2 separate regions of the Homo sapiens genome follow, and region 2 is linked to region 1. The links come from fine-mapping of genetic effects on gene expression. A gene starts in region 1. The other region holds a variant in brackets. All regions are shown on one strand. Distances are from middle to middle.

Region 1 (5,366 bases):
ACCCAAAGGAAAATGTATTTCCTTTCTTTAAAAAAAGAAATATTCTGAACCTACAAAAAGATGGATAGCATAATAGGACAAACACTGATATACCTATGACCCAGTCCAAGAAATAAAACACTGCAAAACAGGAGAAGCCCTGAGGCACCCATTCCCAATCACATCCTCCCTCTTCCCATCACAGGCAACCACTACCTGGAAACCAGAGCTCATCAGCCCCATAAAGCTCTTCCCCTCGCGAAAGAGCATACATCCTTATGATCTGTAGTACTGTTTCACATGATCTTCCTAACCTTTCTATAAGTGGTATCATTCTGAACACAATCAGTGTGTAACTTACTTCTTGTTCAATTTTATTGTTTGTGAGAGTAATCCACGTTGACACCTATAGCTCTAGTACCTTTGTTTACTACTGCATAATATTCCACTATATGAATACACTACATATTTGGCCAAAGACACTGCTTGATGTTTCATATGCCATGTAGTGCCTACTATTTTCCATACCACTATGGAAAATGCGCCAGCCATTTTCCATAACATTCTCCAGAATCCTCACAGCCACCTAATGAGGAAGGTATGATTCCCACTAGACCAAAGAGGAAACTGGAGCAGGGAACTGGTGTAATTTGTCCAATATGTGTGAGCAGCAGACTCCTGCTTCAAGTTCAAGTCCATCGAAGTTTAAAGCCACACTTCTGACAATGCGCCTTGTAACCCTGCTTATGTAGATTCTTATTTATTATTTTTTTTTTAATTTTTTTTGAGATGGAGTCTCACTCTGTCACCCAGGCTGAGTGCAGTGGCGCGATCTCTGCTCACTGCAAGCTCTTCCTCCCGGGTTCACGCCATTCTCCTGCCTCAGCCTCCCGAATAACTGGGACTACAGGCACCCGCCACCATGCCTGGCTAATTTTTTGTATATTTAATAGACATGGGGTGTCACCGTGTTAGCCAGGATGGTCTCGAGCTCCTGACCTCGTGATCCACCCGTCTCGGCCTCCCAAAGTGCTGGGATTACAGGAGATTCAGATTATTTTAATGAAAAAAACTGATAGAGTTCTACAGTCATCTGGGAAAAATGTGAAACACGATGCTCTATTTTCTTTAACAAACATCCCACAGGAAATTCGTCCGACACAGGGACAGCCCGTATGTACACTGAGGAAGAGCCTCTGCCTTTGGCAAAGGTCTCCCACTAGGGTCATTACCAAGTTTATACAGGCACTCTCTAAGTAAGCCTGTGTAGGACTGCAACCCGAGTTGGTTTTCTTTGGGGAAACAGGCTGTCTGCACCCACTTACAGACAGGACAGGGGAGCCCAAGAGAACATGGGAATCAGATCCTGCTTGAACTGGCAAAAGCTGAGTCAGCAAAGCTCTAAGAACATCTCCAGGGAGCAGCTCCAGCTGTTAGCAGCTCTGGGGGTCTGAGGAACAGTCCTCAGCTCACAAGGCCAGGAGTTTGCCTAGTCTGCTCTCCGTGTGGCCAGCTTTGAGAGCACTTTCATACATCCCAGCCCAACCCTGTTGCTCTGGAGAAAGCCCAACCTGGAATACGGAAGAGGAGTGAGAGTGAGGGTGGAGACTCACAGAAACCAGGCAGGGAGCAAAGCCTGGAAAAAGGATACCCAGCTCCAGGCCTGGGCCCAGATCCCTCCAGATGCTCAAAGCAGGTGGGCCCCTAGGAGGTGACAGTCTAGTCCCCCAGAACTCCCAAGGACAGGGGAGGCCTTTCAGCACCAGGACTCCTGACTCTACTCTCCTGCTTCTACACTGTATCTCTCATTTTGTCTGTCCACTGGAGGATTAAGGGAGCCTCAAAGGAGCAAGGCATAACTGGCTGAAAAGACCCCCTCCCACCCATCCTGGACAAAGCAAGGAGGAAGAACACAGGATCTGCCACCTACTGGCTGTGTGACCTTAGCTGGAGCATCCCCGTCCACTCTGGAGGAAAATGTAGTGGACTGTCTCTAAGGGCCCTGCCATCTGACTCTTTCTGTCTACAGTGCTAAATGCACTCTGGCTCACGCCTGGCATCCCAGCACTTTGGGAAGCTGGATGGGGAGGATGGTTTCGGCCCAGGAGTTCGAGACTAGCCTGGGCAACATAGTGAGACCCCCGTTTCTTTAAAAAAAAAAAAAAATTTAATTAGCCAGGCGTGGTGGCCCGCACCTGTGGTCCCAGCTACTTGGGAGGCTGAGGTGGGAGGATCTCTTGAGCCCAGGCATGGAGGCTGCAGTGAGCCGAGATCGCACCCCTGCACTCCAGCCTGGACAACAGAACAAGATCCTGTCTCAAAAAGAATAAATAAACAAATAAATAAAAGCACTGACATTTACTGAGCAGTTTAAAGTATAATTCATTTAATCCCAACACCCCATGAGGTAGATACTACTGTTATCCCATTTTACAGAGGAGGCCGCTGCAGCCCAGAGCGGTTCACTGAGGTACCAAGGCCATAGGCAAAGTTCTAAAGGAGGCCCCAGGGGTAGAAGCCTACGCTCACGGATGCCTGGGAAGGCTGCACAGGACATCCACGGGATGGTGGGGGTCGGGAGACACCAGAGACTGGCCCGAGGTTAGGCGCAGAGGGAGATAATGGGTCAAGGTGTCTGAGAAAGGAGACGGGGCTTGGTAGCCCCAGCGAGACTGGCCTAAGCCCAGATAGTGGGGAGGAGATAGGAACGAGGGCGGGATGTGGAGAAGCAGGGAAAGGCAGGCCGACGTGGGCAGGGGCGAGGAGGCCTTGGAGGAAGGAGGGTGGATGGCGCAAGCCAGTGGCGGAGGCAGGGGACGCCGGCGGAAGCGCGCGGGCGGCTTTGGGGCGAGCGGTCCCACCTTGAGCACCGTGACGGCTCCCGCGCTGTGCACCTGGAAGTGCGCGGGCGGCTCCGTGCCCGGCTCCGCCGCCTCGTCGGGGCCCTGGTAGCTGAAGCAGGCGTCCGCGATGTCCAAGTGGCCGAGGGGCAGCGCGTCCTGCGGACTCTTGAAATAGTAAAGGTAGCAGCGGCGCGCGTCGAACACGAACCAGCGGCTGCGGTAGCCACGCAGGGGGCCCTTGCCCGACAGCTTCTGCAGATAGCCACACAGCCGCGCTGGCTCCCGCGCCGGACCCGCCCCGGGCTCCGCGGCCGCCCCCTGCGCCGCGCCCTCGCCGCCGCCGCCGCCCTCCTCCGCCCGGGCTCCGGCCCCCGGCATCGCTACCGCGCGCCAACCGTAGGCGCCCGCGCCCTGCGCCTCCGCGCCGCGGCCGCTGCGCCCCCTACCCCCTCCGCACCGCCCCTTCGCTCCGCACGGCCCGCGGGCGCGCAAAGCACCCTGGGACTTGTAGTCTCGCCCCCGCCCGCCCGCCGGCCGTTGCCCCCTCAGCCCCCGGAGGCAGGGTCCTGCGACCAGCACCCCGCGGGTCAGTTGCCTTCGTGCCACCTGGGCTCCAAGTCCTCGCCCTGCCGGATGAAGCAATGGTCTATTTCTTTATGGCAGTGTAGGTACATGGGAGTGTGCATCTCTCAAAACCCAGCGGAGTGTCCGCTTAAAACTGCATTTCACACTGTGTATCTTATTCTAAAAACTTGATATTTAAATCTCCCTCCTGCCAGAGTCTCAAGCTAATATTGTAAAAATGAGACAGCCTATTGCCTGGTGCTGAGTGGGTGCTCAGTAAATATTTGCAGAATTCATGAAAGCCAAAGCGTTTCCTGCCTCTCCAGACCTCAGTTCATTTATTGAATTCAACATATATTTATTGAGCGCCTTCTGAATGCCGGGTACGGTTCTGTATGCCAGGCCCTGGCGGATACAGCAGTGAACAAACCAATCATTCTCCTGCCCTCGTGGAGGTTATATTCTAGTAAGGCAGGGAGGTGACACACAAGAAAGCAGATAAAAGTAATGTGTGCTATGTTGTATAAATGCCGTGATGACATGTAAATGATTACCGCTTAAAATAGCACCTAGTATTTATCAGTGCTTTATAGACTAACTTATTTGAACACTCACAACCTGAGAAGGCAAATCTATTGCTTTGTAATAAAGCAAAGAGAAAGAATGAATAAGACCAAGTATTTGCTAGCACAACAGGGTGACTACAGTCAAAAATAATATAATTGTACGTTTAAAAATAACCAAAAGAGTATAATACAGACGCGGTGGTTCACGCCTGTAATCCCAGCAGTTTGGGAGGCCGAGGTGGGTGGATCACCTGAGGTCGGGAGTTCGAGACCAGCCTGACCAACATGAAGAAACCCTGTCTCTACTAAAAATACAAAATTAGCTGGGCGTGGTGGTGCATGCCTGTAATCCCAGCTACTCGGGAGGCTGAAGCAAGAGAATCTCTTGAACCCCGGAGGTGGAGGTTGCAGTGAGCCGAGGTTGCGCCATTGCACTCCAGCCTGGGCAACAAGAGCAAAACTCTGTCTAAAAAGAAAAAAAAAAGTATAATAGGATTGTTTGTAACACAAAGGATAAATGCTTGAGGTGATGGATACCTTACTTACCCTGATTTGATTATTATGCATTGCATGCCTGTATTAAAATATCTCATGTAACCCATAAATATATACACCTACTATGTTCCCACAAGAATAAAAAATAAGTAAAAAGCAAAGTGAGAGGATGAAGTGATGGGGGGCAGATAGCAGGCTGCTGCCCCAGGACAGGCAAGGAGGCTGGTCTGATCCTGTGACATGGAGCACAAACCCAGATGATGGGAGGGACAGGGGCAACCAGAAATGTGGGTGAAGCATTCCAGGGAGAGGGAATAGTGAGTACAAGAGCTCACTTTATTCAAAGGAAAAAGGAAGTGTATAGCTACATAGCTACATTTGTGAAAGCCCAAACCAAATATCTCACCCTCATAGATTTGCATGTTTTATACAGACACACTGAAAGACCCAGGTGGAAAACTGACCTTTCTGAGCTGGACAGGGACACAAATTAGACTGCCTGTTTGGAGCCACCCAGGTAGGAAGGGCAGGTTCTGGGTCCTCACCCAGCCTGCCGACTCTCTGCAGGCCCTAAAGTGGCACCACGCAAGCATTCCTTTCCTGGGGCCCATCAGAGGTGTGGCTGACCTCTCCACCTGTCTTTGAGCACAATCAGCACAGTGTTAAGGACTGGGCTCTGACTTCACACTGACCAGATGTGTCTCCTAGCTCTGCCACTTACCAGAGGCATGACCTTGGGCAAGTGATTTAACCTCTCTGGGCCTCAGTCTCTTCATTTATAAAACAGGGTTGATAAATACAAGTAGCTATCTCGTGCTGTTGTTATTGAAAGGGTTACGTGAGAAATGCATATGAAAGTGCTTAGCACGGTGCCTCACACATAGTAAGCACTCAGCACATATCAGCTGTTATTATTATC
Region 2 (5,366 bases), 91 kb before region 1:
AGGGCTCTTGCAGTGTTCTGGGCAGGAAGAAGGAGAGGGGAAAGGGCTGAATCCCAGCAAGGGACTTGTGCCTTTTTCTCCCAAGCCAGGACTGTCCCAGACCCCCCTAGTTGCAAGGGAGCGTCAGTGGGGTGTGTTTTCAGCAGGTCCCATTGCTGCCTTGAGCAAAATTGGAATCTGTTGGTGAGGAAAGAGGGGAATGAGTGTGGGACTGGCAGCTCGGGGGAGGGACAACTTACTCTCGGGACCACGGGGCAGGGGGTGGAGCAGAGAAGGCAGAGCCACCAGCAGAGGGGGTCCTGCAGCTGGGCTTCAACAGGCAGTATGGAAGTGAGTGTCCAAGGTGAGGAGCGTGGCTGTGCAAAGTCCCCAGGGTGGGCGGTGGCAGAGGGTGTGAAGGACAGGAGCAGTGCCAAGGCTGGTGTGGGGGTGGGGAGCAGGGGCTGTCCCTTCATGCCCCATTTCTTGTCCAGACGTTCTCTGAGCCATTGGGAAGGGTGTGGATGGTGGGACGGCCTTGACGCCACGGCTGGGTTTGCATGCTAGCAGCAGCTGGCATGGATCGAGCTCTTAGGATGTGCCGGGCAAGGGCCGAGCCTACACATGCAAGAACACATGCAGTCCTCCCTCCAGGGCTTGGAGGAGGCAGGATTGTTGCTCCCACTTCACAGAGGAGGACACTGAGGTTCAGAGAGGCCAAATGAGCTGCCCATGGTTTCAGCTAGGAAGCAGAGGGTCTGGGCACCCAACCCACTAAAACTCCACACTCTGCCACCCCTCCAGGCACAGCCAGAGGGGAGGCTACATAGGAGAAAAGGGGGTGTATGAGAACCAGGAGGACAGCGAGGAGGTGACGGTGGAGGTCTGCCTTCATCCTGACACAGGCAGTAAGGTGCTGTTCTGGCAGAGAGAGTGTCTTTGGGTCTTGGGCGGTGGGCACCTGGGTGCCAGTCCCAGGCTGAGCCCCATGGCCCCTAGGTGTGCAGAGGCAGAGTGTGTACTGCTCAGAGCGGCAGGCAGGACCTGTGGACGAGGAGCACTGTCATCCCCTGGGCCGGCCTGATGACCGCCAGAGGAAGTGCAGCGAGCAGCCCTGCCCTGCCAGGTGAGCCCACCCCCATCGCCTGCCAACTCCCCACCCCCAGGTGTCCTGGGTCTGCCACAGGCCCCTACATCTGGGTCCCTGGAGACCCCGGGGGGGAGCAGAGGGAGCTGGGCTTTCATTCTCTTCCCAAGGCTGAAGCCCTAACCCCAGGTCACCCCTCACCCCAGGTCACCCCTCACCCCAGCCTAGGCCAGCCTGGGCCAGCCTGGACACCTGTGGTCCTCTTCTTTGGATCCCTGGATGTGGAAATAGGCCTCAGGTCATGCTCAGTTTCCCTGAGGGGAGGGTGGCAGGAGCAGAGGGGCTGTGCTATGTCACCAGGCTTTGAGGTCAAGAAACTTACCTGGGCTTGGATCTCTGGAGAATCAACCACTGGCCTCAGTCCCAGCTCTACCCAAACCCTGAAGGCCTGGAAGCCCATTCCCTGCTGGTGAGCCTGCTGAAGAGCCTGCTGATGCCACCCGTCTGATGCCATGCTGATGCCACCCATGTGCCCCCGCCAGGTGGTGGGCAGGTGAGTGGCAGCCGTGCTCCAGCTCCTGCGGGGCCTGGGGGCCTCTCCTGCCGGGCCATGCTCTGCATCCGCAGCATGGGGCTGGATGAGCAGAGTGCCTTGGGGCCACCCGCCTGTGAACACTTCCCTGGCCCCCTACTGAAACCCCTTGCAACTGCCATGTGCCCTGTCTGGCTACCTGGGCTGTGGGGAACTGGTTTCAGTTGAGCGTGGGATGGGAGAGGGCCCACCTCCAGCTCCACCCTTGGTCTTCGGCTATCGGGAGGCAGACAGCCTTCCTGGAGCCCTCGTGGGTGGGAGGGAGTCTGGGCATTCCAGGGTCCAGCCCCTGACTAAAGCCTCAGGGATCAGGAAGCCCCTGGCAAGCATGGCCATAGTCATGGCCTTGAGCTGGGCAGGGCCAGAGAGGGCTGGCTGGGGTCTCTGCCACTCCTAAGCCCCCTCACCCTGGCTTCCCCTGCAGTGCTCAGTGACATGTGGGGAGGGCACTCAGCGCCGAAATGTCCTCTGCACCAATGACATCGGTGTCCCCTGTGACGAGGCCCAGCAGCCAGCTAGCAAAGTCACCTGCTCTCTGCCACTCTGTTAATGGCCCCTGGGCACACTGGGCCCTGAAGGCTCAGGCAGCGGCTCCTCCAGCCACGAGCTCTTCAATGAGGCTGACTTCATCCCGCGCCACCTGGCCCCACGCCCTTCACCTGCCTCATCACCCAAGCCAGGCACCATGGGCAACGCCATTGAGGAGGAGGCTCCAGAGCTGGACCTGCCGGGGCCCATGTTGGTGGACGACTTCTACTATGACTACAATTGCATCAACTTCCACGAGGATCTGTCCTATGGGCCCTCTGAGGAACCCGATCTAGACCTGGTGGGGAC[A/G]GGGGACCGGACACCCCCACCACACAGCCATCCTGCACCCTCCACGGGTAGCCCCGTGCCTGCCACAGAGCCTCCTGCAGCCAAGGAGGAGGGGGCACCGGGACCTTGGTCCCTTAGCCCTTGGCCCAGCCAGGCCGGCTGCTTCCCATCCCCGCCCTCAGAGCAGACCCCTGGGAACCCTTTGATCAATTTCCTGCCTGAGGAAGATGCCCCCATAGGGGCCCCAGATCTTGGGCTCTCCAGCCTGCCCTGGCCCAGGGTTTCTACCGATGGCCTGCAGACACTTGCTGCCCCTGATAGCCAAAATGATTTCCCAGTTAGCAAGGACAGCCAGAGCCAGCTGCCCCCTCCATGGCGGGGCAGGACCAATGAGGTTTTCAAGGATGATGAACCCGAGGGCCGTGGAGCACCCCACCTGCCCCCGAGACCCAGCCCCACGCTGCCCCCTTTGTCCTGTCGGCAGCACCCACTCCTCTCCTAGTCCCGACGCGGCGGAGCTGTGGACAGGAGGGATAGTGGCCTGGGAGCCAGCTCTGGAGGGTGGTCTGGGGCCTGTGGACAGTGAACTGTGGCCCACTGTTGGGGTGGCTTCTCTCCTTCCTCCTCCCATAGCCCCTCTGCCAGAGATGAAGGTCAGGGACAGTTCCCTGGAGCCGGGGACTCCCTCCTTCCCAACCCCAGGACCAGGCTCATGGGACCTGCAGACTGTGGCAGTGTGGGGGACCTTCCTCCCCACAACCCTGACTGGCCTCGGGCACATGCCTGAGCCTGCCCTGAACCCAGGACCCAAGGGTCAGCCTGAGTCCCTCAGCCCTGAGGTGCCCCTGAGCTCTAGGCTGCTGTCCACACCAGCTTGGGACAGCCCCGCCAACAGCCACAGAGCCCCTGAGACCCAGCCACTGCCTCCCAGCCTGGCTGAAGCGGGGCCCCCCGCGGACCCGTTGGTTGTCAGGAACGCCAGCTGGCAAGCGGGAAACTGGAGCGAGGCAAGTGGTGTGGGCTGGGCGGGCAGGGAGTTTGCGGGGGACCTTGGTGACTGTTTCTTCACTGAAAATGAGCAGAGTGGGACACGGGCCGTCTGTCTCGCCTCCCTCGGGGAAGGGGTTCCCAGGATTTAGGGGGGTGAGGGGACCCCGGGGCCCATTCCTGGGCAGCACAGCGGGCCTCAGGGAAGGCAGGGGCAGGCACACTCTGGCAGCACAGCACGCCCCAGGATGGAGCTGGCTCAGACAGCTGTGCAGTGGGGAGGGTCCCCGCGTGGCCGCCGGCCCCGCAGCTTCCCTGAGGTTCTGCCTGGCTCCTCCAGGCTGGGCTCAGCCCACTGCCACCTGGCTCCGCCCTCCTCTAGCAGTGACCTGCAGGGGTCTGAGCTGCAAGAAAGAAGCTGGCTAGTGCCCCTCCCTGGGTCCCCAGATGGTCACTGCAGGAGAAGAAGCTTCTGTTCAGATCCCTAATTTGGAGGTGGGATGGGGTAGGCTGAAGCTTTACTCAGCGATTTGGCTGCTGGCACCAGGACCCAGCCTTCCTTCCCTGGTGCCTCTGGGAAGCCATGAGGATGGTCAGGATAGCTGGTCAGGGGTGCCCACAGGGTCCCCTCCCCCCACCTCTGCACCAATGACGCTGGAACACAGGCCCTTTGTCCCATGTGAGCAGGGATGGTTGGTTGCTGGGGGGATTTGACTTCTCATCCTCACAGTCTTCCTGGGAGGTGGGTGGAGGAGCCTATTTTGCAAATAAGGAAACTGAGGCCCAGAAGAGGGCCCCTGTCCTGCTGAGGTCTCCTGTCTTGCTGAGGTCTCGCTAGCCTAGGTGGGTAGTTTCCTGGCTGTGGAGGCCTGGTGGGGATGGGATCTGCCTGGCTTTCACGGGTCTGTTCCCCGCAGTGCTCTACCACCTGCGGCCTGGGTGTGGTCTGGAGGCCGGTGCGCTGTAGCTCTGGCCGGGATGAGGACTGTACCCCCGCTGGCCGGCCCCAGCCTGCCCGCCACTGCCACCTGCAGCCCTGTGCCACCTGGCACTCAGGCAACTGGAGTAAGGTGCGTGAGGATGGAGCCAGGACAGGCATTCCCAGGGCATGGGGTGGAGCCCTGGTTCCCCACGGCCTGTGTTCCGAGAGCGGCAGGGAAGGGGAGGGCTCCAGGCTGCACGTCTGTGTGCCCGATCTCACTGGATTCTGAATCTCTTGGGAGTCTTCTCATCTTTGTCTGGCTTGGCCTGTCTCCTTTTCTCTGTATCTTTGACCCCATCTGGACTTGTCTTTCACTAGCTTGCCTTTGTTCTTCCCTTTCTCTGTCTGTCCCAGCCCATGGCAGTCTCTGGCCATGCCACCTTTTGCCTGGGGCCTGCCAGCCTTGGCCTCTCGCTGGGGTTCTTCAGATATTTCCCCGGGCTGGGGCGTGGGTCTGATGCCTTTCCCGCCACATGCCTCACAGGGTCACACCCGTGGGCCTGCACGTGGGTGTCTTGGTCCCCAGTGCTCGCGCAGCTGCGGTGGAGGTTCCTCAGTGCAGGACGTGCAGTGTGTGGATACACGGGACCTCTGGACACTGCAGCCCTTCCATTGTCAGCCCGGGCCTGCCAAACCGCCTGCACACCGGCCCTGCGGGGCCCAGCCCTGCCTCAGCTGTTACACATCTTCCTGGAGGGAGGTGAGGCCTGGGGGTTCAGATCGGGGGAGGGGATGCCCTCAGACCCTGGCTGTGCCCTGACTCCTTCCCTGCCCACCCAGTGCTCCGAGGCCTGTGGCGGTGGTGAGCAGCAGCATCTGGTGACTTGCCCGGAGCCAGGCCTCTGCGAGGAGGCGCTGAGACCCAACACCACCTGGCCCTGCAACACCCACCCCTGCACGCAGTGGGTGGTGGGGCCCTGGGG

Direction of the effects. Positions count from the first base shown, and alleles are read on the strand shown. Sizes are in standard deviations (SD) of each study's normalised expression.
For the expression in lymphoblastoid cells of the gene that starts at base 3,259 in region 1, allele A in region 2 goes with a higher level than allele G (moderate effect, 0.49 SD a copy in GEUVADIS).

The links. PIP is the estimated chance that this variant, and not a neighbour inherited with it, causes the effect.
Region 2: its variant is the best candidate, but not a certain one, in a credible set for the expression of TBC1D2B in lymphoblastoid cells (GEUVADIS, PIP 0.68).

What each region holds. Positions count from the first base shown.
Region 1 is chr15:78,074,453-78,079,818 of GRCh38, forward strand. TBC1D2B (TBC1 domain family member 2B) reads right to left here and starts at 3,259. Exons shown (of 13, transcript NM_144572.2): 1 at 2,841-3,259. The coding sequence starts at 3,200. RefSeq lists silencers at 2,735-2,934, 3,135-3,344, 3,495-3,544.
Region 2 is chr15:77,983,494-77,988,859 of GRCh38, forward strand. It overlaps the pseudogene ADAMTS7P3. Among named protein-coding and RNA genes, the nearest start is that of TBC1D2B, 92 kb to the right of the region's middle. The variant A/G (reference allele first, on the strand shown) is at 2,496.